Homo sapiens: one gene and its partner. The protein of the gene in region 1 purifies or fractionates together with the protein of each later gene. This does not show direct contact. Each region holds a gene or a part of one and is shown in the gene's direction. Other genes may lie near its edges.

The links.
Region 2: the proteins of SUSD6 (region 1) and STXBP4 purify together in Homo sapiens (affinity purification with mass spectrometry; 3 studies listed by BioGRID and IntAct, with this or other methods). This does not show direct contact.

What each region holds. Positions count from the first base shown.
Region 1 is NC_000014.9:69,696,083-69,707,055, forward strand, and holds part of SUSD6 (sushi domain-containing protein 6 precursor), read left to right. Parts: intron 1-7,312; coding exon 7,313-7,510; intron 7,511-8,521; coding exon 8,522-8,660; intron 8,661-10,973. UniProt on the Homo sapiens protein: May play a role in growth-suppressive activity and cell death. May be involved in the production of chemokine molecules in umbilical vein endothelial cells (HUVECs) cultured in THP1 monocyte LPS-induced medium. Plays a role in preventing tumor onset.
Region 2 is NC_000017.11:55,075,076-55,086,048, forward strand, and holds part of STXBP4 (syntaxin-binding protein 4), read left to right. Parts: intron 1-3,002; coding exon 3,003-3,119; intron 3,120-3,610; coding exon 3,611-3,660; intron 3,661-5,974; coding exon 5,975-6,108; intron 6,109-6,114; exon of another isoform or gene 6,115-10,973. UniProt on the Homo sapiens protein: Plays a role in the translocation of transport vesicles from the cytoplasm to the plasma membrane. Inhibits the translocation of SLC2A4 from intracellular vesicles to the plasma membrane by STX4A binding and preventing the interaction between STX4A and VAMP2.

The sequences.
Region 1 (10,973 bases):
TGGGGAAATGAGCCACAAAACAGAACCTGGCAGGTTTCCTGATGCCCTGCCCCCCTCAGCAGGCCCCGGCTTAACTGAGTGGTCAGGCTTGCAGCTTAGAAGCCAGAGTTCCTGGTGAATCCAGCCCTGCCAATTACAAATGTGTGGCTTGAGGCAGATCACTCAACTCAGTTAAGCCTTATTGTCCTTATCTGTAAAGTGGAGAAAATATAGTACCTGCTTCATGTAGAGAGAGAACCCAGAAGAGTACTTGGCACAGGTAATAAACTATCTGTTTGCAATAATTACTGTTTTCCTTATTCCAAAACAAACAGAACTATACATTTAAACACCTTTGTTCTCTGTATTGACCTTGCTTTTTCTCTGGATCTCTTTGCTTCTACAAACCATTGAAGGCTAGAAGTAGAAATATAACCTTTATATATAAGAAAGGGTTTTGAGAGCAAGCACATAAATAGTGCTTTTCTAAATAACTTTAAGAGACCCTTAGTGCTAAATGCCTCCTTCTTTCCACATCTTCAGCCTCACATTTCATGCCCTGTCGTGTGGTTCTGAACCTTTTCCACTGTTTTCAGATCCCCAGACCTGTCCTGACTGCTGGCCAAGGACTCCTTCACTGAGACTGTGCTGTCCACTACAATAGCCACTACTAGGTGGCTGCATGTGGTGACTGAGAACTTGAAATGTGTTTAGTCTGAGTTGAGGTGTGCTATAAGTGTAACCGGAAAGGGGTCCAGATTCAGACCCCAGGAGAGGGTCCTTGGATCTTCCACAAGAAAGAATTCAGGGCGAGTCCACAGAGTAAAGTGAAAGCAAGTTTATGAAGAGAGTAAAGGAATAAAAGAATGGCTGCTGTATAGACAGTATAGACAGAGCAGTGTGGCATGGGCTACTCGGCTGAGTGTATTTATAGTTATTTCTTGATTATATGCTAAACAAGAGGTGGATTATTCATTAGATTTCCAGGAAAGGGGTGGGAATTCCTGGAACTGAGGGTTCCTCCCCTTTTCAGACCATATAGGGTGACTTCCTATGTAGCCGTGGCATTTGTGAACTGTCATGGCTATGGTGGGGGAGTGTCTTTTAGCATGCTACTGCATTATAATTAGCATATAATGAGCAGTGAGGACACCGGAGGTCACTTTCGTCACCATCTTGGTTTTGGTGGGTTTTGGTCGACTTCTCTGCCCAACCTGTTTTATTGGTGTGGTCTTTTGTGACATGTATCTTGTGACCTCCTATCTCATCCTATGATTTAGAATGCCATGCCTAACCTCCTGGGAATGCAGCCCAGTAGATCTCAGCCTCATTTTACTCAGCCCCTATTCAAGATGGAGTCGCTGTCATTCAGATGCCTCTTATATAAGTGTACAGACTACTATGAGAAAAAGAATATAAAGTATCTCATTAGTGAATTTTTATGTTGACTCCATGTTGAGATGTAATCAGTCAACATATTTTTTCATATGTTGGGTTAAATAAAATATTAAGATTAATTTCACCTGTTTCCATTTATCTTCCTAATTGGCTACTAGAACATTTTAAATTACATCTGTGGCCATGTTATATTTCTGTTGGACAGCTTTGTGCTAGGTTTGTGATTTCCATCCATTCCTTCCTCCTCTCCTTAGTTTCTACTCTTTTTCTTCTTTGCCTCAGGCTCTTACCCTCCCTGGGTGCCGATGAATGATCACCTAGCCAGAAGGACACCCCAGGCTATTAGAAAAGCTCATATTTGAGCAGCTTGTGTCACATTTAACACTTACTTCATTGGTTTAGGGTAGAGTTGGCTGTGACCATGTCTGTCTTCTCTAGGTTGTAGGCTTGTAGTGGGGGCATGGTTCTGTTACCGGAAAGAGGTCCAGATCCAGACCCCAACAGAGGATTCTTGGATCTCACACAAGAAATAATTTAGGGAAGTCCATAGAGTAAAGTGATAGCAAGTTGATTAGGAAAGTAAAGGGGCTGGATGCGCTGGCTCACGCCTGTAATCCCAACACTTTGGGAGGCCGAGGCGGGCAGATCACTTGAGGTCAGGAGTTCGAGACCAGCCTGGTCAACATGGTGAAACCCTGTCTCTACTAAAAATACAAAAGTTAGCCGGGTGTGGTGGCACACGCCTGTAGTCCCAGCTACTCAGGAGGCTGAGGCAGGAGAATCGCTTGAACCCATGAGGCAGAGGTTGCAGTGAGCTGAGATTGCCACTGCACTCCAGCCTGGGTGACAGGGGACAGGGCGAGACTCATCACAAACAAACAAACAAAAAATGCACTATAGATAATTTAAATGTAACCTTCTCCTACTCAACCCTAATCCCTTTGAGGCTGCATGCATGTCACACTGATCTTTATATTCCCTGCTTTCCACACCTTGTTTTGAAGGAGCTCAAGTATTTGTTCTGTTTGTTAAATTGAATGCTTTGACCCCTGGGGCCTTTCCTGGAGCTTATTTTGCTTTGCTTGTTTTGGAATGTTGTAAAAGTTTGTTTTGTTTTAATTTGCCTCCTTCTGAAAGGTTGGCCTGCAAAACCAACAAAACCAGGGAACCTTTAGAAAGGCTGGTGAGGGTCCTCAGCAGTTAGTTTCTGCTGAGGGTGTCAGGCTGAGGCGACGGAGGTGGTGGAAGTATCAGCTAGATCATTTTGCGTCTCATCTGCATTGTTACCAGGGTGGACTTTGACTGAATGCCTACTGTGTGCACTCCCTGTGCTCACTGAAAGCCTATGTGGCTGTGGGACAGAATGGAAAGCAGAGAGGAAGCTAAAGATAATTCATTGATTTTTTTTCCCCCTGTAAAATTGTCTGGCTTTCTCCTTTTCTTTTTAAAATTATGTGGCACTGCCACATCAGGTGAGTTCATTGTCTTCCCAGAGTTAAGTACAGAGCTTCCTTCTGCGAACCTGGAATTGTCAGAGAATGATCCTGGTGCACAGATCAAGACAGTTTCTTGCCTAGACTGTGGCTTCTGGAAGCCACTGAACAATTTCTTTGCCATGTGGGTTTTGCCTTTTTTTAGTGTTCTTCCCAGGCATCACTGAGAGGGTCCTCTTCAACACCTGCTGTTGGCCAGGACTCTGCTCTTGGTCAAGAGGATCATATTTTTTCATGTGTTCTTTTTCTTTTCTTTTCTTTTCTTTTTTTAAACAGAGTCTCACTTTGTCGCCCAGGCTGGAGTGCAGTGGTGCAATCTCAGCTCACTGCAACCTCTGCCTCATGGGTTCAAGCAATTCTTGTGCCTCAGCCTCCTGAGTAGCTGGGTCTAGAGGTGTGCATCACCACACCTGGCTAATTTTTGTATTTGTAGTAGAGATGGGGATTCACCGTGTTGACCACGCTGGTCTCGAACTCCTGACCTCAAGTGATCCGCCCACCTTGACCTCCCAAAGCGCTGGGATTGTAGGCGTGAGCCACTGTACCCAGCCTTTTCACATGTTCTTAGTGTCTTAAAATGACTTGCCTTTTTTTTTTTTTTGGACCCTTTCTTCTTAGGCATCCTTATTTCTTCTTTGAACCTGGAGCATCTTATGACATACTTCAGCTTTTTTCTTTTCTATGACCTTCATAGATGGGCATAAAATAATTTTTGTACTGAGTTTATTTTGCCATACTGAAGCGGTGTTGTTGTCTGGGGTAATATCTGAGGTTCATTGTCCCACAGCCATGGAAAATTAGGATGCAGACACACCAGAGTGAGGTTAAGAGTGGAAGTTTAATAGGCGAAAGAGAAGAGCTCTCTGCACAGAGAGGGGTCCCAGAGAAAATGGGTTGCACTTCTGCAGTTAAATGAAGAAGGTTTTATAGATGAGCTTGAGGAGACCATTTACATAGGGGACGAAAGATTGGTTGGACCATGTGTGCCATTTGCATAGTTGTGAAATAGCTGGCCGTCCCACCCTAATCTTTTATTATGCAGATGGGTTCTCTACCTGGTGGGCACCATGTTGCCTGGTCCTTACTGTACACGTGGTGACAAAGAAAAGGGAACATGGAGCCTCCACTCTGAACACACCTGGCTTCCAGGTGGCCCTTTTCTATTGGCACAGCTGCTGGCATTCACCTGTGCAAGCTTCCAGCTTGCTTATCTATGCAGCTCGATTTTTCAGGCTGCTCTTTGTTAGAAAAGAAATGATTTTGAGGCTGCTTTTCCTTAAAAGGGAAACCTTGCTGAGGACTCTTTTGCCGTCACTATCTGCCTAAATAATTTCTTTCTAGCTCCTGTATCAATACTAGGATTGCTATAATGTTGACATAATCTAAGGGGTCTCTCCTACCTCTAGTCCATCTTATATCAAATTATAAATTTGCTTTTCTTATAATGCTACCCTTCTCAAGAACCTTCAGCGGCTCCCCCTTTTCTTTGACTATAATTATAAATATCTCCTTTTGTAAGGAAGGTCCTCTACAAGATGGTTTCATCACTCTTCATGTTATTTTTTTGGACTTTTAAAAAATTACTCAACCCAGCCAAACTGGGCTGCTTGCTGTTCTCAGAAGTTAACCTACATTTTCCCACTTCAGTGCATTTACTTCAAACTATGACCTCCCTTCCTGATGAAGTGAAGCCCCATCTGAAGTGCTACTTCCTCGGAGATCCTTTCCTAGGCTCCCCTATTCCTGCTTTGAACTTCCTCTCTTGTGGCACAAATCACATTATTTGACATGTGTTAGAATAAATTTGTATATAGAGTATCTTTGGAAGAATATGGTAGAAACTGGTGCAGTGACTCTGGAAAGAGGAACCCAGTGACGGGACACTGTGCACCCTTTTTGAATTTAATACCTTGTATATTTCCCATGAGTCTGTTTTTTTTGTTTTGTTTTGTTTTGTAAAAGTATTTTAGATAACAAAAACCTAATCCCTAAAGCATTACAAGAAAATACTGGAGAGTATGTTTATAAACTCAGAGTAGAGAAAGAGTCCTTAATCCAGAAGCCATAAAGAGAATGATTTTTTAAATATATGTGTGCACTTAATGGTCATATCCCTATTTGGCAAGAAGGACCTGAGGTGCTTATATTTTTGTCCTTTTTCAGAGCATAGCACAGTGACCCCCTACTCAGAATCAGTAAGTATTAGTTGAATTGAAATTAAACTGAATTACAAGTCACTTCTTTGCAGTCCTCACTTTTTTTTTTTTTTGACTTATTATGAGTGCTAGGTGACCGCCAGGATCCCGCTCAAAGATTCTGTGGAGATGTGGGTTTTATGGAAAGAGATACCCAGCAAAGCAGGAGTGGCTTTAGAATCAGCAGCTCTTCCCCTGAGACTGTCCTTCCCAGCACATTGGACTTGTGTGTGGGTCCTGCCTGCTTTCAGGAGCTGCCATGGGGTGCTCAGCATTAATTATGCCACGGAAATGAACCAATTAGACACAGTCCAAGGAGAGCCAGGGAGTAAGTCAGGGAGATCTGTGGCAGGCCTGCTGCCCTGAACAAAAGAGGGAAAGTGTAAAGGCTAAAGCAGTTTGCGGAGGTTTCTTTGGAAATCTAGCTGGCCAGCGCTCTGAACTACTTGGCCAAAGTTAAAGAGCACCAGAAGGAGTGTTTGCGTTTTTCTTTCTCCTGTTCAAGACTCTGGTGGTGGAGGAGAATAGGGACAAGTTGGGTCCTTAGAGGGGACTTGGGGGGAGCTTACTGGAGCTCATCTCCTAGTTTCAGAGAAGCTGCCAGACTTCTCTGGATCCCTGTGGCACCTACCCAGCTTTGTTTTGTTAATAGCTTTTTAAAAATGGCATCTTTTTTTTAGTGGCATCACCTAAAAAAAGAAAAGAAAAAGTGCCTTTTCTCCCCATCTCAAGTGATAAGCAAATTGAGGGTAGGGAGCCATCATCTCTTTTCCATTTGGTGTCCACTCCCCAACCTGGCTGGCAGTCAGCTTGCTTAACAGCCATTTGTAGATTGGAAAGAAGAGGCATGGGTGAGAGAGGCTGTGAGGGCACAGCTGCAGGGTGGTGTGGTCTGCCCCTCTCGTGGATGAGAAACTGCCTTATCTTGGACAGTCAGGCACTGTGGTGTGACTCTCAGTCACTCCAGGCCTGTCAGAGGAAATGAGAAAAAGAAAACGACCGTTCTTATTCTCATACAGATGTCCTTGTGATATTCAGGATGGGGGCAGGTTATTTGTCAGCAAAATTGAATTTCCTTTGGAAAACTTTTGGTCTTTATTGCATTCATGGTTGCCTGGCCATTCTACCTCAGCCCAACATTCCAAACAGTGATTCTGTAGTGCCCCCACTTTTACTGTTTTGGCTGGTAATACCCGGCAGTCCACCACCTGGGGTCTTCAGTTTTGCAGTGTCAGTCCAGAGTGGAATCAGAGGTTGTCCTTTTCCTCCTCAGGTCCACTCAGACCTTCCAGATCCTCTGACTTACCATTACTGCAACTTACCAGGGTTCCCACCATACCTAGGCACTGCCTGCCATCTCCCTAACTGACCAGTTTCAAGAGGGCAAAGGGGAGGTAACCTTGACACCCATACCCCTTAAAGGCCATGCAGCTCATGGGGTAGAAGCAATGTCTGCTGGTGGAAAGAGCAGAGGTTTAGAATCAGAAGATTTGACTGTGACCCCAAGCCTGCCATTTACCTTGCTGTAAGCTTGGCTAAAAGTCACTTAACTTTTGTGGCCCTCAGTGTCTTCTTCTTCAAAGGAGAGTAACGATAGCTGTCTCACAGAGTTGTCAGGACAAATAAGGCGGGAGGTGAAGGTGCTTTTGAAACTAGGCAGTCCTGTATATCAGTGGAAAATGTGGAATTTATCATGGGATAGAGACAGGTGGTGCCATTGACTACTATAGTCAGAGAATGGAAGATGCACAGGGGGTTTGGGAAGCCTCCCAGGGAATCTATCAGAAATCCCCTCTCAGGCCAAGAGTGCACGTTTTTATTATACAATAGAGTCTTTTCTGACATTGATAGTGGAAACAAGGCCAACATTTTTCCTCCTTTCACTGTGATTTATTATGTGTGTTACAGGCTTTATTACATAATACAGGCTTTATTAAAACTATTATGTCTAGATCTCTATAGGTTCAAGACTTTAGAGTCTGCCGTTCATTTATGGATGGAATTCTCTTAAGGCATGGTGGGGAGGGAGGGGGAAATGTTGCAAGCAGCCACTTCCCCTGTTGCCAGTATACTTCCCCTCTGTCAGTGGCAACCTGAGTTTCCAGGGTTTGGTTAACAGTTCCTCCAAGGAAAGGGTTATTTCCTCCTCCTGTGTTTCCTGTAGAGGCCTTCAGAGCTGCGTCACTGAGAGCAGACTCCTACTGGATACCTCACCACTGTACCCCTGCTCTCTCCCTGTCTTTGCAGTGTGCCCCCTACCACCGGAGCCAGAGAATGGTGGCTACATCTGCCACCCCCGGCCCTGCAGAGACCCCCTGACAGCAGGCAGTGTCATCGAATACCTGTGTGCTGAAGGCTACATGTTGAAGGGCGATTACAAATACCTGACGTGTAAGAATGGCGAGTGGAAACCAGCCATGGAGATTAGCTGCCGTCTCAACGAGGGTCAGTCTGGCAGATGAAAAAGGGATGCTGCTGGGGTTCTGCTTTCTGTTAACTCACAGGATGCAAAGCATGCTTCCTCCAGAGCACTCTTTGCTGTGGTGCAGCCCAGCCCCAGTTGATGCTCTGCAGCCTCCCTTCCTTGGGTCTTCATGTCTTTGTGGAAGATACTTGAGGTTGCTGGTGCATGTCCTATTGCATTTCATTGAGCCATCTGCCCTGCTCTGTAAAGCCCGTTTGATGTTCAGGATCTCTTGTTTGCATGGCCAAGTGTTGGTGACCCTTGACCATGTTCTGCCCTCACAGTGAGCACAATGCTAATACCTTCTCTAATGTATCGTCCATTTCATTTTTCCTTGAATGGAGCTACAGACCAGCTGGACAAAAGACCTCCCACCCTTACTGCTTCCTCCTGTCTTGCATGACAGGAAAATCCACCTGCTTGCAGGAAAGTGTGTCATATAACCATCTTTGTGCTTCCCACTCAGGCTTCAAGACCAGAGCATGTTTAACCCATGACACCCCAGAAATGGGTGGGAACCAACCTGAGAGTTACAATTAAAGCTGTGGATCTTAAGACAAGGTTTTATTACAGTCCAGTTTCTGTAAATTAATCCTGCCACTTGGGAAGAACATAGGTAGAACTTAAGATGGTGGAATGACATGCCCAGTTAAATTGTCGATGTTTACAAACTTCAAGCTTTTGAGGATGGGATCAAAGTGGTTTATAAAGGTAAAATCTCTAGGGTTAAGTGAGTTTATGTGTCAGATGGACCTCAAAGATTGGAAGTGAGGGGAATTTTTTATTCAGGAAACAGGATAGGGAAATGGTCCTTTTCCAAAAGAACTGTGTATACATAGGTCATTCTAAGCTGTTATTCCTGAAATGACCCTGACCGTAGGATGTCTGTATTGCACCATTCAGGAGGCATTTGACAAGATCAGCTGTGGGGCCCATCAGCTGTTTTGTGTATTTGGGTACAAAACCCTTCTGATGATGGCTTGTTTTTATAGATAAAGACACCCACACATCACTTGGGGTCCCCACGCTGTCTATAGTGGCTTCTACTGCCAGCTCCGTGGCGCTCATTCTCCTCCTCGTGGTGCTGTTTGTGCTGCTGCAGCCAAAGCTGAAGTCTTTCCATCATAGCAGGTGAGTCCAGTGGCAGAGCTGACATGAGACAGGCAGGTGCAAGCATTACTGTGGGGGCCAGTCTTTGGTGGAGGGTTGCTGGTGGCCCCAATCTCTGTGGGTCTGTGTGTGTCCAGGGAGTGGGGAGGGCCCTGCCATGTGTCAAACTCCTAGATGTGCCTACCATTGTGCTTATTGCTTTGCATACATTATCTTAATCCTCATAGGAACATTGCAGATGAGGAAATTGAGGCTCAGAGAGGTTATTCACTCAGGGTTATACCTCTAGATGACAACAGAGCTCAGAACTGAGGCTGCGCGCGGTGGCTCATGCCTGTAATCTCAGCACTTAGGGAGGCTGAGGTGGGCGGATTGCCTGAGGTCAGGAGTTTGAGACCAGCTTGACCAACATGGTGAAACCCTGTCTCTACTAAAAATACAAAACAATTAGCCGGGTGTGGTGGCGCGCGCCTGTAGTCCCAGCTACTCTGGAGGCTGAGGCAGGAGAATCACTTGAACCCACGAGGCAGAGGTTGCAGTGAGCCGAGATCACACCACTGCGCTCCAGTCTGGGAGACAGAGTAAGACTCTGTCCCATTAAAAAAAAAAAACAAAAAAAAACGGAAATCTGTTCAATTCCAAAGCCATGTCATTTCCCCTACACCAGTCGTTCTCAAAGCGTGGTTCCAGCAGCGTCAGGATCATGGAACTTGTTAGGATCAACCAAATGAGAAGCTCTAGGGGTGAGGCCCAGTGATATTGTTTAACAAGCTGTCCAGGTGATTTTGATGAACACTTAAGTTTGTGAGCCACTATCCTGCACTCCTGGTTCCCAGTCCCGGCTGCAATATAGAGGCACCTGGGGGAGTTTAAAAACAAATATCAACACTTGGGCCTCCATTCCCATTCTGATTTATTTGGTTTGGAATGGAACCCTGGCATTCACTTTTTATAAAAAGCTCAGTTTTTCTGTGCAACTAGGATTTAGAACCACTGCACCACACTAAGGAGAAACAAAGGAAGTGGATTTTCTTGCCTGCCTTTATCAGTTTCCTTTTCCAGTCTACTGCTTTAGCCACAAGTTGTCTAGGGGCGAGGAGCATGAAGGGCAGAGCTGATGGTGCTGGCCCTGAGTGGATTCCCGATGATGGACTTTTCTTCCAGGCCATTGTGGCTTCTGCAGTTACTTGGCCCTTCCTGGCAGTTCCTCATTCCCTCTTGAGGAGTAACATTTTTTATATATCTTCACAGTCCTTCATCAGTCACTGTTATAACTCACAAACATAAAGGGCCAAAGTAAACTGCATTCAGTAAAATGTTCCAAATTTGGATTTACAGACAAGGACCAGGCTAGATTTAATCTCTGTGTACTATGTGTGATTTTCTTTCTTTTATTTTGTTTTTGGGAAGAGGCTAGCAGTTATTTTTAAAGGCTATTAATTAATAGGATGAAGAGGATTTGAAGGGGATTGTTTACTTGAAATGATCAGCTATTTCCACCTAAAGTCAAACTGATCAGTTCTGCATCTCATCTAAATGAGGGAGTTTTCCCCCCTATAGTTAACTTGTAAGTTTGTTAAAAGTAACTGGCTAGTTTTGCTTGATTTGAGTAGAGGGGAGATTTGGTTTTCATTGTAGACCCCATTTAAATTTTGTGCTGTGTACATATATTACTTTTTAAGCCAAACACTATTTTGAGTAACAAAAGTCAAGCACATGCCAGTTTACACACTGCTTTCTTTTTTTTCTTTTTCTGAGACAGGGTCTCACTCATGTTGCCCAGGCTGGAGTGCAGTGGCGTGATCACAGCCTACTGCAGCCATGACTTCCCTGGGCTCAGGTGATCCTCCCACCTCAGCCTCCCTAGTAGCTGCAACCACAGGCATGTGCCACCATACCCAGCTAATTTTTTTGTATTTTTTATAGATATGGGTTTCGCCACATTGCCAGGCTGGTCTTGAATCCTGGTCTCAAGCAGTCTGCCCACCTCAGCCTCCTAAAGTGCTCCCATCAAACTTTCCCTTCCTTCCAAAAACCTCTGCCACTTCTCTCCTCTCAGAGTGTATGTAGCACAGATTTTACTGCCAAGAGCAGGTGAGGAAATTGAGAACTACTAACAACAATCTAGCAACAATAATATGGTCTAGCAGCAGACCATCTATATTTCTTGAATTGATGAGCTGAAAGGACACAGCATCACCTAGGATTGGCCTGAATCCAATGCTGAGGAAACTATTAGACAAGTCCAGATTGTGGGACATTCTTTGAGACAGCTGGCCTGGACTCTTTAAAAAAAAAAAAAAGCCAATGTCATGAAAGAAAAACTATAGTGGA
Region 2 (10,973 bases), on another chromosome or scaffold:
TTCAACATAAGAAATAAAACATTACTAGTACCTTTGAAGACCCACAGTGTTTCTCTCCAATTGCATCTCCCACCCTTTCCCTCAGAGATAATCACTTTCTTGGATTTATTCTTAACCATTTTCTTGAAAACTTTACTACTTGTGTATATATTCCTTAACAATATGTTGTTTAGTTTTACCTGTTTATCAACTTTATATAAATAGAAATATACTCTATGTATCATTCTGACCTGCTTTTCTTCACTCGACATTTTGTTTTTGCATTTCATCTATTTGAAGTTTTTAGCTAGTTCGTGTCTTCTTATTGTTTCTTGTACTCTATTGTGTGGATATACTACGTGTAATTATCCATTCTGCATTTGATGGACAGTCCAATTGTTTCTGTTCTCTTCTGTTATAAATGGTGCTAAAAACATTTTAGTGCATGTATCCTGCTCCACATGTGTAATAGTTACCTGCTAGGAGTAGAATTGCTAAGTTGAATAATTGTAAGTTTGGCTTTACTAGGTAATGCCTACTTGTGCTTGAAAGTGTTTGAACTAATTTGTACTCCCACCAGTAATGAATAAGAATTATTGTTTACCCCGCATACTTGCTGACCCTTTGTTTTATTTTAATTTTATTAATCTGGTAGTTGTAATAAGTGTTACATCATTACAGTTTAATTTGAATTTCCCTGGTTACTAATGGCTTTGAGACAGTGATGTGCTGGGACCAACTGACACTAGCTCATGAGAGCTGATTGCATGCATCTCTTCTCAACTCAATGTACAGTGATATCAGGTTGGTAGCTTGAAATCAGCTATAATGGGGTTATTTCTACCCATAAATGTTATAAACCAAGGTTTCCTCCTCCCTGGTAGCCAGTTGAGCATATATTTATCTCTTTATTAGGCATTTGTGTTTCTCTGTGAAATGCTTCTTCATATCTTTTGACCCTTTTTCAGTGGATTAGTTGTCTTTTTCATGTAGATGTATAGTGATTCTTCTGGTTACTAATCCTTTGTTAAATTACATGTTATAAAAATCTTCTTCCAAATTTCTGGCTTGCCTTTTCACTCTATGGTAAAATGGACACAAATCCAGTCATCCCTCCTGACTTAATTTCCATTTTTGTCAGTATTTTAGTTCTTTCTTTACTTTTAAGACCACAAATTAGACATTGATTATTTGTTTTGTGTGGTCAGCATTTGCTTAATAGACTCCATTTTTACCATTTTCTGTTAAGCATTCTTACATCTCAGACCTTCTCACTTGGTTTCTTTCTTCATGAGTACATATTTTAGAAATTCATGTAGTGAGGATCTGATGATAATAAGCTCTCCCCATTTTATTTGTCTGAAGAACATCTTTATTCAACTCTTGTTCTTGAAATATATTTTTGCTACATTTAAAATGTTAAGTTGGCATTTAATATCTTTCACTGTTTTTATTTCGTGTTTGTGATGTCAGCTGTCAATCTGTCATTTGTTTGCAATCTGTTTCCTTCTATATGATTTTAAGATATCTTTGGCTTCAATGTTCAGCAGTTTGACTATGATGAATCATGTGTGAACTTACTTTAGTGTGTACTATTTGGGATTCATTGAGCTTCCCGATTCGAAGAGCAATGTCTTCTGCCATTTCTGGAAATCACTAAGCTATTATCCTGAGCGATTTCTCTTTCATTCTTTGTATTTGTTCTTGTGTAATTCAGATTGGATGTGTGCTATAGCTTCTTCTGGCTGTTTTCTCTTTACCTTTTCTCCCCATTTGTATTTCAATTTTTGTCTTTCTGTTCCATTATGAGAAGTTTCTTTACCTCTGTTGTCAAGTTCACCCATTCTCTTTATAATTGTATCTAACTGGATGTCAAATCTATAAATAAAGTTTCTAATTTAGTTATGTTACATTTTTATTTTTGAGATGTATTTTTTATGTTATCTGGATCTATTTCAATAGTTTCTTGTGTATTATACTTTCAATTCCCTCTTATTTTTAAAAACATATTAAACATAATTGCCTTATATTTTGTATCTGCTCACTTAAATATCTGCTGTCTTTATAGATCTGATACTGTACTTTATTTCCTTCAGTTAGCTTTCATTCATAGAGCTTATTTTCTCATATGTTTAGTGATTTTTGTTTGTGTCTGTGAGATCATGTTCTATCAATGCATTATAAGTGGGAATTCTTTGAGCTCTGAGTTTTAGAAATATCTCTCCAGAGTTTTGAGTTTGCTTCTGCTAGCCTGGGACCAATTTAAAGTAAAATTTCAGCATATGGCTTTTTAGGCCACACAGATAATGTAAATTCTGGCCCCAAACCTGTGTGAATGGGGACTTTTGGTTAGGAATTATTCAGGAGAAACTTTTTTACTCAAGTCACCTGAGCCAACATCAAAACACTGTTTACCTCTGTGAAGTTTACTTCTTCCCAGTTCACCCATTGAGTTTCTTCTGTTTTCCATTTGTGACTGTTGAAACCCCAAACTGTAGGCCACCAGGGATCAGCATATACCCTCCGAACAAATAATGCTTCAGTGCTCTCTTACCCCAGTGGGCTCACTTGGCATCGCTGTTGCATGTCTCCATGGAATTCCTTTACTTCCTTGCTAGCTTTGTCTTACATCGTGTGTGTGTGTGTGTGTGTGTGTGTGTGTGTGTGTGTGTGTGTATCCAGCATTTTTAGTTATGTTAAATTAGTAGAGGTTTCTGTCAGCATCTGGTAAGACACATTGCAAAAACAAAACAAAACAAAACCATAAACTAATTTAAATGTATTTTACTATAAGAATCAATAAACTCATATACAACTTATCTCATAAAACTTGCAGTATCTCTGTGCAAATTAACTTTTAAATATGCAGTTAGTTACATGCCCCCCAAAATCAAAACATATGTACAGTAAGAGAAAAAGATAATTTGGTAATATTGAATATTAGTTCATAAAAACTGAAAATAGGGACCAGTAATGTAAAACTGAAGAAATGTGTAAATGCTCCTTTTGATATCTCTGTGCAGGAAAGTGTTCAGGATTTAAAAAAGAGAATCATGGTACTCGACTGCCAATTACGAAAATCAGAAATGGCTCGAAAAACTTTTGAGGCATCCACTGAAAAGCTTCTTCATTTTGTAGAGGTAAGTTTTTCTGTTCTATTACATTCATCTTTAAAAAATATATAGGCAACTGGCATATAGATAAATGTTACTGTATTTGGTACCTAGTGAAACATTCTCTAGTCTCAAAGCAGCAATGCTGGCTTATGGTCAGATTTAGAACTGCATACATGATGAAAAGACTGGCTAACATTTTATAGATTGTTTAGAGAAATAATTGAGACAAGGTGATGGGATTCCAAGTATATACTATTTTAATGAATACTTTACCAAAAATCCTGATAATGCATAAACATTATTTGATAACTACTTACCTTATAAAGAAATGTTTTCATAGCTGTTATATTTCTGAGTAAAACTGCATGTTAGTTCAATTGTTTGCACCCCCGCTACATAATAGAAGCATCAGTTTAATCCGTGGACAGAGGAGGTTATAAATATTAATGAAGAAAAGATATTTTTTAAAAACTGTCAAACTGATATATCTCCTTCACCATCTTGTTTGTTGCTAGGCTATTCAAGAAGTATTTTCTGATAATTCTACTCCTTTATCAAATTTAAGGTAAGAAAATTTAAGTGCTTTTTGCAGAATATGGGTAGTGATTAAATTCTTCATCTGGTCATTGTGACTCAAATACTAAAAATCTCTTAAATAGTCCTAAGGTGCTACATAACTCCCATTGGATGCCATCATATGGAAATAGATGCAAGGACATATTGTTTTGTGTCCCATCTCTGTTAAAGAAATTCCTGGAGGTATTTAGTCAATCATTGTAACCTTGTAATCTAAAATTATGGTAGAAACCACCTATCCTGTCTTTATCAAAAATTCTATAAAGATGAGATTAACTTAAAATTCTGTAATTGTCTTGCGTATGAATCAAAGTTACTGGTCACAGGTTCACTACTAAAAGTGTCTCAACCCAGCAGGTTAGTTGTTCTGGCAAACAGAATTTTGGAAAACATATTCATGCAATCATTTTCTTTCGTTTTCATCTTTCAGTAGCTATAAATAAAAGAAATATATTTGGAGAATATACCTCGATTGTCTCATTATTCATAATATGTTTTGGATTTAAAGTTTCTTACTAGAAGCTGGAAACATACTAATCAAATTTATTTATTTCAAACCACAAGTTTATGGTCATTTTGATACATGATGAAAGACATTTACAAAAGAAAGATTCTTGTTTATGCATTTCCAAAGTAATTTTTTTCTGCTCTCATAATAGCTGCCACTAGTCCTAGATACATCTTCTACTTCTAGCAATATACGCTTGCAGAAACAGGAAGACTCAATGAGGTTGGGTGTGATGGTGCATACCTGTAATCCCAGTATTTTGGGAGGCTGAGGCAGGGGGATCACTTGAGCCCAGGAGTTTGAGACAAGGAACATAGTGGCACACAGTGGGACCCTATCTCTACAAAAAAAAAAAAAAAAAGAAATAGCCAGATGGGATGGTGCATTCCTATATTCCCAGCTACTTGGGAGGTTGAGGCAGGAGGATTGCTGGAGCCCAGGAGCTCTAGGAGATTGAGGCTGCAATGAGCTGTGATCATACCACTGCCCTCCAGCCTGGATAACATAGTGATGCCCTGTCTCAAAAAGTAAATAAATACTCTACCCTTTACTGTGAAAACAGCAGCTTAATAAGTGAAGATATTTTTGGTGTCCACATAGCATTTTTTAATTTAGAAGAATATTTATAATTCACTTCTAAACTCAAGTAATGTTTTACTTCTTATGATGAAGGAACCTGACATAACTTCTTACTCTCCTTGCTGCTTATGATACAAGAAAACTCTGTGAATTTCATGATTATTACTCTCAGTAAGGATCTTAAAATAATCAGTAATCACATTTATTTCTTTATGGGCTAAGTGTGTCACCCACCCTCAGCTTTCCAAGGTCTTAGTTTTACCTTGACTAATAATTCAAAAGTTTTGTTTTAAAAATTAAGGTTAAAATGACTATTTAAAAGCCAGAGCCTGCCCTTGCCTTAAACTGCTTCATGGAAAAAAAGACAACTTTAAATAGCTACATCACGCAACATTTCATGGTGTCTTAGTAAATTAAACACTAGTAAAAACTGGTGCAGTCATTTCAATATAGCATATCCTCTACATGGATATTGGCCCTGGTCATTCAACACAGAATAAAGGCTATGTATTTGAATTTGAGAACTGATGCTTTTGTTACCCTTTGTGAATTAATATCATTATGCTTAGGAAGATGGAGTATAAATAATGATGATTTTGTCATCAGTTTAAATTTTTTTTTCAAGTAAGTTTTAGTGTAATTTTTTGAAGAAAACATTTAATTTTTAATTAGATCAGAATGCATTCATTTTAGGTGACATTTGCATTTTTTGAAAGTGATACAAATGCTCTAGGCTGTTTTTGATTCGAGGCAAAAAATGGAATAATTTAAGAGATAATTTCAGGAGCCAAATACATATATTGAATTTATATTTAATATTACTAGAAGTAATAATAAATGTATTTTAACAAATTCATGTTTATATGCTTAATTTGAATTTATACAGAACTAAATAAAATTATATCATGTTAGCAAAAGAGAAGCACTCACAAAATAAGCCCAACAAATGATTTAGGAGACAGGTCATCCTTCTATTACTTCTTTATCATACATGAAGTCAACCTAATTTTAAAATATTTCTACTTATTATGTCGTAAATAATTGAAAACAGAAATATTGTTTTATGTGAATTACTTCAATTTTGGTTATATGAAATAATTTCCTCAGAAATATAAATATTTTTGTACAAATCTATAACTGATACAACTTCAGATTTAGTAAAGATAGATGTTGTTTATTGTGTAGTAAGTTCAACTTTATTTTATTGCCTTCATAGTGAAAGAAGAGCTGTGTTAGCTTCTCAGACTTCCCTCACACCACTGGGAAGGAATGGACGTAGCATCCCAGCAACGCTGGCGCTTGAATCTAAGGAACTTGTTAAATCTGTTCGTGCCTTACTTGATATGGATTGTAAGTTTTCTGCATTTTTTCACTTTTTAAAAGTAATTTATTTAACAAAACAAATTGAAGTCAGACAGTTGAATTTCGTTATAGTGGCTTGCCTACAGCAAAGTTGATACCTAATCAATAAAAATATTAATGTACCAATCATAGGAGGAGAATATTTCCTTTATGTAAAGGCTCAGAATGAAGCTCTAATTAAGATATGCCTTTACATCCACTTCCACCCAAAGTTTCTTTGAAATGGCAGAATAAATGTAAAAATCAATCCGCAGCAGCACTGGAAACTGGAGGAGTGGAATCAGCATTGAGGAACTTGTTGTTAAATAATAATATCCCACAGGTGGAATAAGATTAAATGTACAGTCCAACTGAGCAAAAGACCCCAAAACACAAATATAACAGACAAAACTGCTGAAACGATGAGTTAAGCAGAACCATGGAAAAAACCCCAGGATCACAGACAGTGAAGACTGGGAACAGACTCTGGGGCAGTCAGCAGGGTAATTAATTAAATGGCTTGGAATAGCTGAACCAGTTCCCTAGTCTTCAGAGCTGCTGGCTCAGGCATATCCTCCTATGCTGGAGCCAGGAAAATACCTCTCTAAAGGAACTACATGAACTGTCACTAGATACCCCTAGAGTCATCATTGGGCTAGAAAGAGAAGTAAGGCAATGCTCTAAGTAACTTCCATCATCCCAACAGACAGAGAAATCCTTGGGGAAAACTTAAATGATTGGACATTTTCCTCTTTTTCTTTTTGTGTCTCTCCAGACACTTTTGTCTCTTTATGAATTTCAACTCCCTTTTTCTAACTACTTCTTACGTACTCTTTATTTTCCTGCAATGAAAATTATAATTTACCTAACTATACCTATAATTTATAAAAATCAACAATGTGCTAATGTACTGTAGAGGAGAAATAAGAGGGAGGTGATTTATAATAAAATTATATATATTTCAAAACATAAATGCTTTAGTACAGCTATACTAGGATATATAATGTAGTCATCAGATGCCTGCACCTAAACAGAGAATCACCACAAATGTGGCAACCATGAATGTAGACTGATACAGGAACATTGTGTTGTCATTTTAAATAGCATGAGCAGATTGTCATCAGTAATGTCCAAATGATTGTCCAAAATGGTGACCAATGGTAAAGTTCTGAAGAGAAGAAAGTAAAATCTTCCATTAATTTATATAGTAGGTACAAGCCTGGGAAATTTAATGTATATTAAAACTATGCAAAAATATTTGGAGTTTATCTAAAAATGGAATTTTGTTCCAGATTTTAGTAATTACAAACAGATTTTTTACCACCATAAATATCTAGTAGGACATTTAAACATTATACAGGACACAGAACAATTCTTTGTTGCACAGGACCGTTCAGTGTATCCAATAATGATAGGATGTTTAGCATTCCTAGTACCCTTTCACTAAATGCCAAAAATATCCCCAAACACTGTGACAATAGATAATGCCTCACAAATTTCCAAAAATGCCCCCTAGGTGCAATACCATTCTTAGTGGGAACCTCTATTGTTGATCCTTATTTAAAATATGAACCAACAACCAAGAATCACCTAATAATGGTCCAGGGGGAGAAGAACTGCATAACAGGGAGATTCTGAAGAGAGAGAAAAAAAGTCTTTAATTAAATAAAGATAATGTAATATTCTGAAGATAGCTATATTATATTCTTGAAATAAAATGAAGTTATTATCCTTAAAGAGAATCAATGACACATTGCATTCATAACACAAGAAGTAGTTGCATGCAAGAAAGCATTTTTTTTTTTAAGACATGGTCTTGCTTTATTACCCAGGCTGGAGTGCAGTGGCTCGATCTCAGCTCATTGCAACCTCCTCCTCCCCGATCCCCCATCACTCCCACCCCTAGGTTCAGGTGTCTCAGCCTCTCAGGTAGCTGAGACCACAGGTGTACATCACCATGCCTGGCATTTTTTTATTTTTAGTAGAGACAGGGTCTCTCCATGTTGCCCAGGCCTGGTCTTGAACTCCTGGACTGAAGCAATCCACCCACCTCAGCCTCACAAAGTGTTGGGATTAAAGCCATGAGCCACCACACCCGGCCAGAAAAGAGCTTTTAAAAAGTATTTTACATCTCCTTTTTCACTAAATGAAGATATTACTCAAAAAAGTTGTTTGATTATTAAATAATATAATTTATTTGAAGCACCTACCTATCACATTCCTAGCACAAAAAACATACTCGGGAATAAGTTTTGAATTGTGGTTGAACTATGTACATAGCACTTTTTTAAAAATAAGCTGTTCCATTTACCATTGCTGCAGAACAAATCAACCCAAAAGTTAATGGCTTAAACCAACAATTTAGTATTGTCTCTCATGGTCCTTTTGGTTAATTGCGCTCAGCTAGGCAGCTCATGTTAGAGCACTCTCACGTGGTTGCAGTCAGATGTCTGTTGGGGATGCAATATCTGATGACTCTACTGGGCTGGACATCTAAGATGGGAGCTCATCTGTGGCTATCAACTGGAACACCTACCTATATTTGGCCTCCCTAGCATGGTGACCTCAAGGTAGTTGAATTTCTTATGTGGTGGCTCAAGGCTCCAGCATAGGTGTTTCAGTGAACAAGACAAAAGCTGTATCACCTTTTATGACCCAGCCTCAGAAGTCACACAGCCTCGCTTTCACCATATTCTATTCATCAATGCAAATTTGAGGGGATGGGACTTAGACTCCACCCGTGTATGGGAAAGTGACAAGGTCTCTTTATAGAAGAGCATATAGTCAGAAGTTATTATTGTGGCCATCTTTGGAGAATAATATGTGATACATTACTGGGTCAAATGGTATTTCTAGTTCTAGATCCCTGAGGAATCGCCACACTGACTTCCACAATGGTTGAACTAGTTTACAGTCCCACCAACAGTGTAAAAGTGTTCCTATTTCTCCACATCCTCTCCAGCACCTGTTGTTTCCTGACTTTTTAATGATTGCCATTCTAACTGGTGTGAGATGGTATCTCATTGTGGTTTTGCTTTGCATTTCTCTGATGGCCAGTGATGGTGAGCATTTTTTCATGTGTTTTTTGGCTGCATAAATGTCTTCTTTAGAGAAGTGTCTGTTCATGTCCTTTGCCCACTTTTTGATGGGGTTGTTTGCTTTTTTCTTGTAAATTTGTTTGAATTCATTGTAGATTCTGGATATTAGCCCTTTGTCAGATGAGTAGGTTGCGAAAATTTTCTCCCATTTTGTAGGTTGCCTGTTCTTTCTGATGGTAGTTTCTTTTGCTGTGCAGAAGCTCTTTAGTTTAATTAGATCCCATTTGTCAATTTTGGCTTTTGTTGCCATTGCTTTTGGTGTTTTAGACATGAAGTCCTTGCCCATGCCTATGTCCTGAATGGTAATGCCTAGGTTTTCTTCTAGGGTTTTTATGGTTTTAGGTCTAACGTTTAAGTCTTTAATCCATCTTGAATTGATTTTTGTATAAGGTGTAAGGAAGGGATCCAGTTTCAGCTTTCTACATATGGCTAGCCAGTTTTCCCAGCACCATTTATTAAATAGAGAATCCTTTCCCCATTTCTTGTTTTTGTCAGGTTTGTCAAAGATCAGATAGTTGTAGATATGCGGCGTTATTTCTGAGGGCTCTGTTCTGTTCCATTGATCTATATCTCTGTTTTGGTACCAGTATATAACCAAAGGACTATAAATCATGCTGCTATAAAGACACATGCACATGTATGTTTATTGCGGCATTATTCACAATAGCAAAGACTTGGAACCAACCCAAATGTCCAACAATGATAGACTGGATTAAGAAAATGTGGCACATACACACCATGGAATACTATGCAGCCATAAAAATGATGAGTTCGTGTCCTTTGTAGGGACATGGATGAAATTGGAAATCATCATTCTCAGTAAACTATCACAAGAACAAAAAACCAAACACCGCATATTCTCACTCATAGGTGGGAATTGAACAATGAGAACACATGGACACAGGAAGGGGAACATCACACTCTGGGGACTGTTGTGGGGTGGGTGGAGGGGGGAGGGATGGCAGTGGGAGATATACCTAATGCTAGATGACGAGTTAGTGGGTGCAGCGCACCAGCAAGGCACATGTATACATATGTAACTAACCTGCATATTGTGCACATGTACCCTAAAACTTAAAGTATAATAAAAAAAAAGTGATACATTAGTATAAGTTAAATACAAGTTAATTTAGTTGGGATGGCTCAATAATCATTATTACAAGTACCCATTAATATATGGCATATTAGTAGATTAGTGTGTTAGATTTTGGTTGTTTTTCTGTCTCTTCCCTAATGTCACCCTACCTGCTAGTTGTCTTTCTGCTTGCTTCTAACATTCCACCATCCCTCTAGTTTGCCACTTTTAATCTTCCCTATGCTGGGGAATAGATGAAAAAAGAATGAGAAAGAGAGAAAGAAAGATGTAAAGTTCCATGTTAATTAACTATCAAAATGATGTTTTCAGTACAGTTCTGGGTAATAGATGGCTTGGCTTGGTATGGGGTAACATTCAAAGACCCTCTGGGGTAAGTTCTGATTTCACAACTGTGTTATGGAGGATTGGAAACTATGCCACTCATAGTGTCTACTCAGTTTTCCCAATAAATATATACTTAAAAATTTGTATAACCTAATACATTTGTAAAAATCAAATTATATATCAAAAACTCCTAAGAGCTAATTATGTGAAGAAATTCTGTGGGTTTTAGGAGGAATGAAAATAATCACTCGTAATGTGTTATGTGTAAGTTCAGAATTTTATATATCAGACATTTTTATGTTGGGGTGGCAACAGTGGAGGGAAACACCTGCACAGACATAGCCCAGTGAACACTG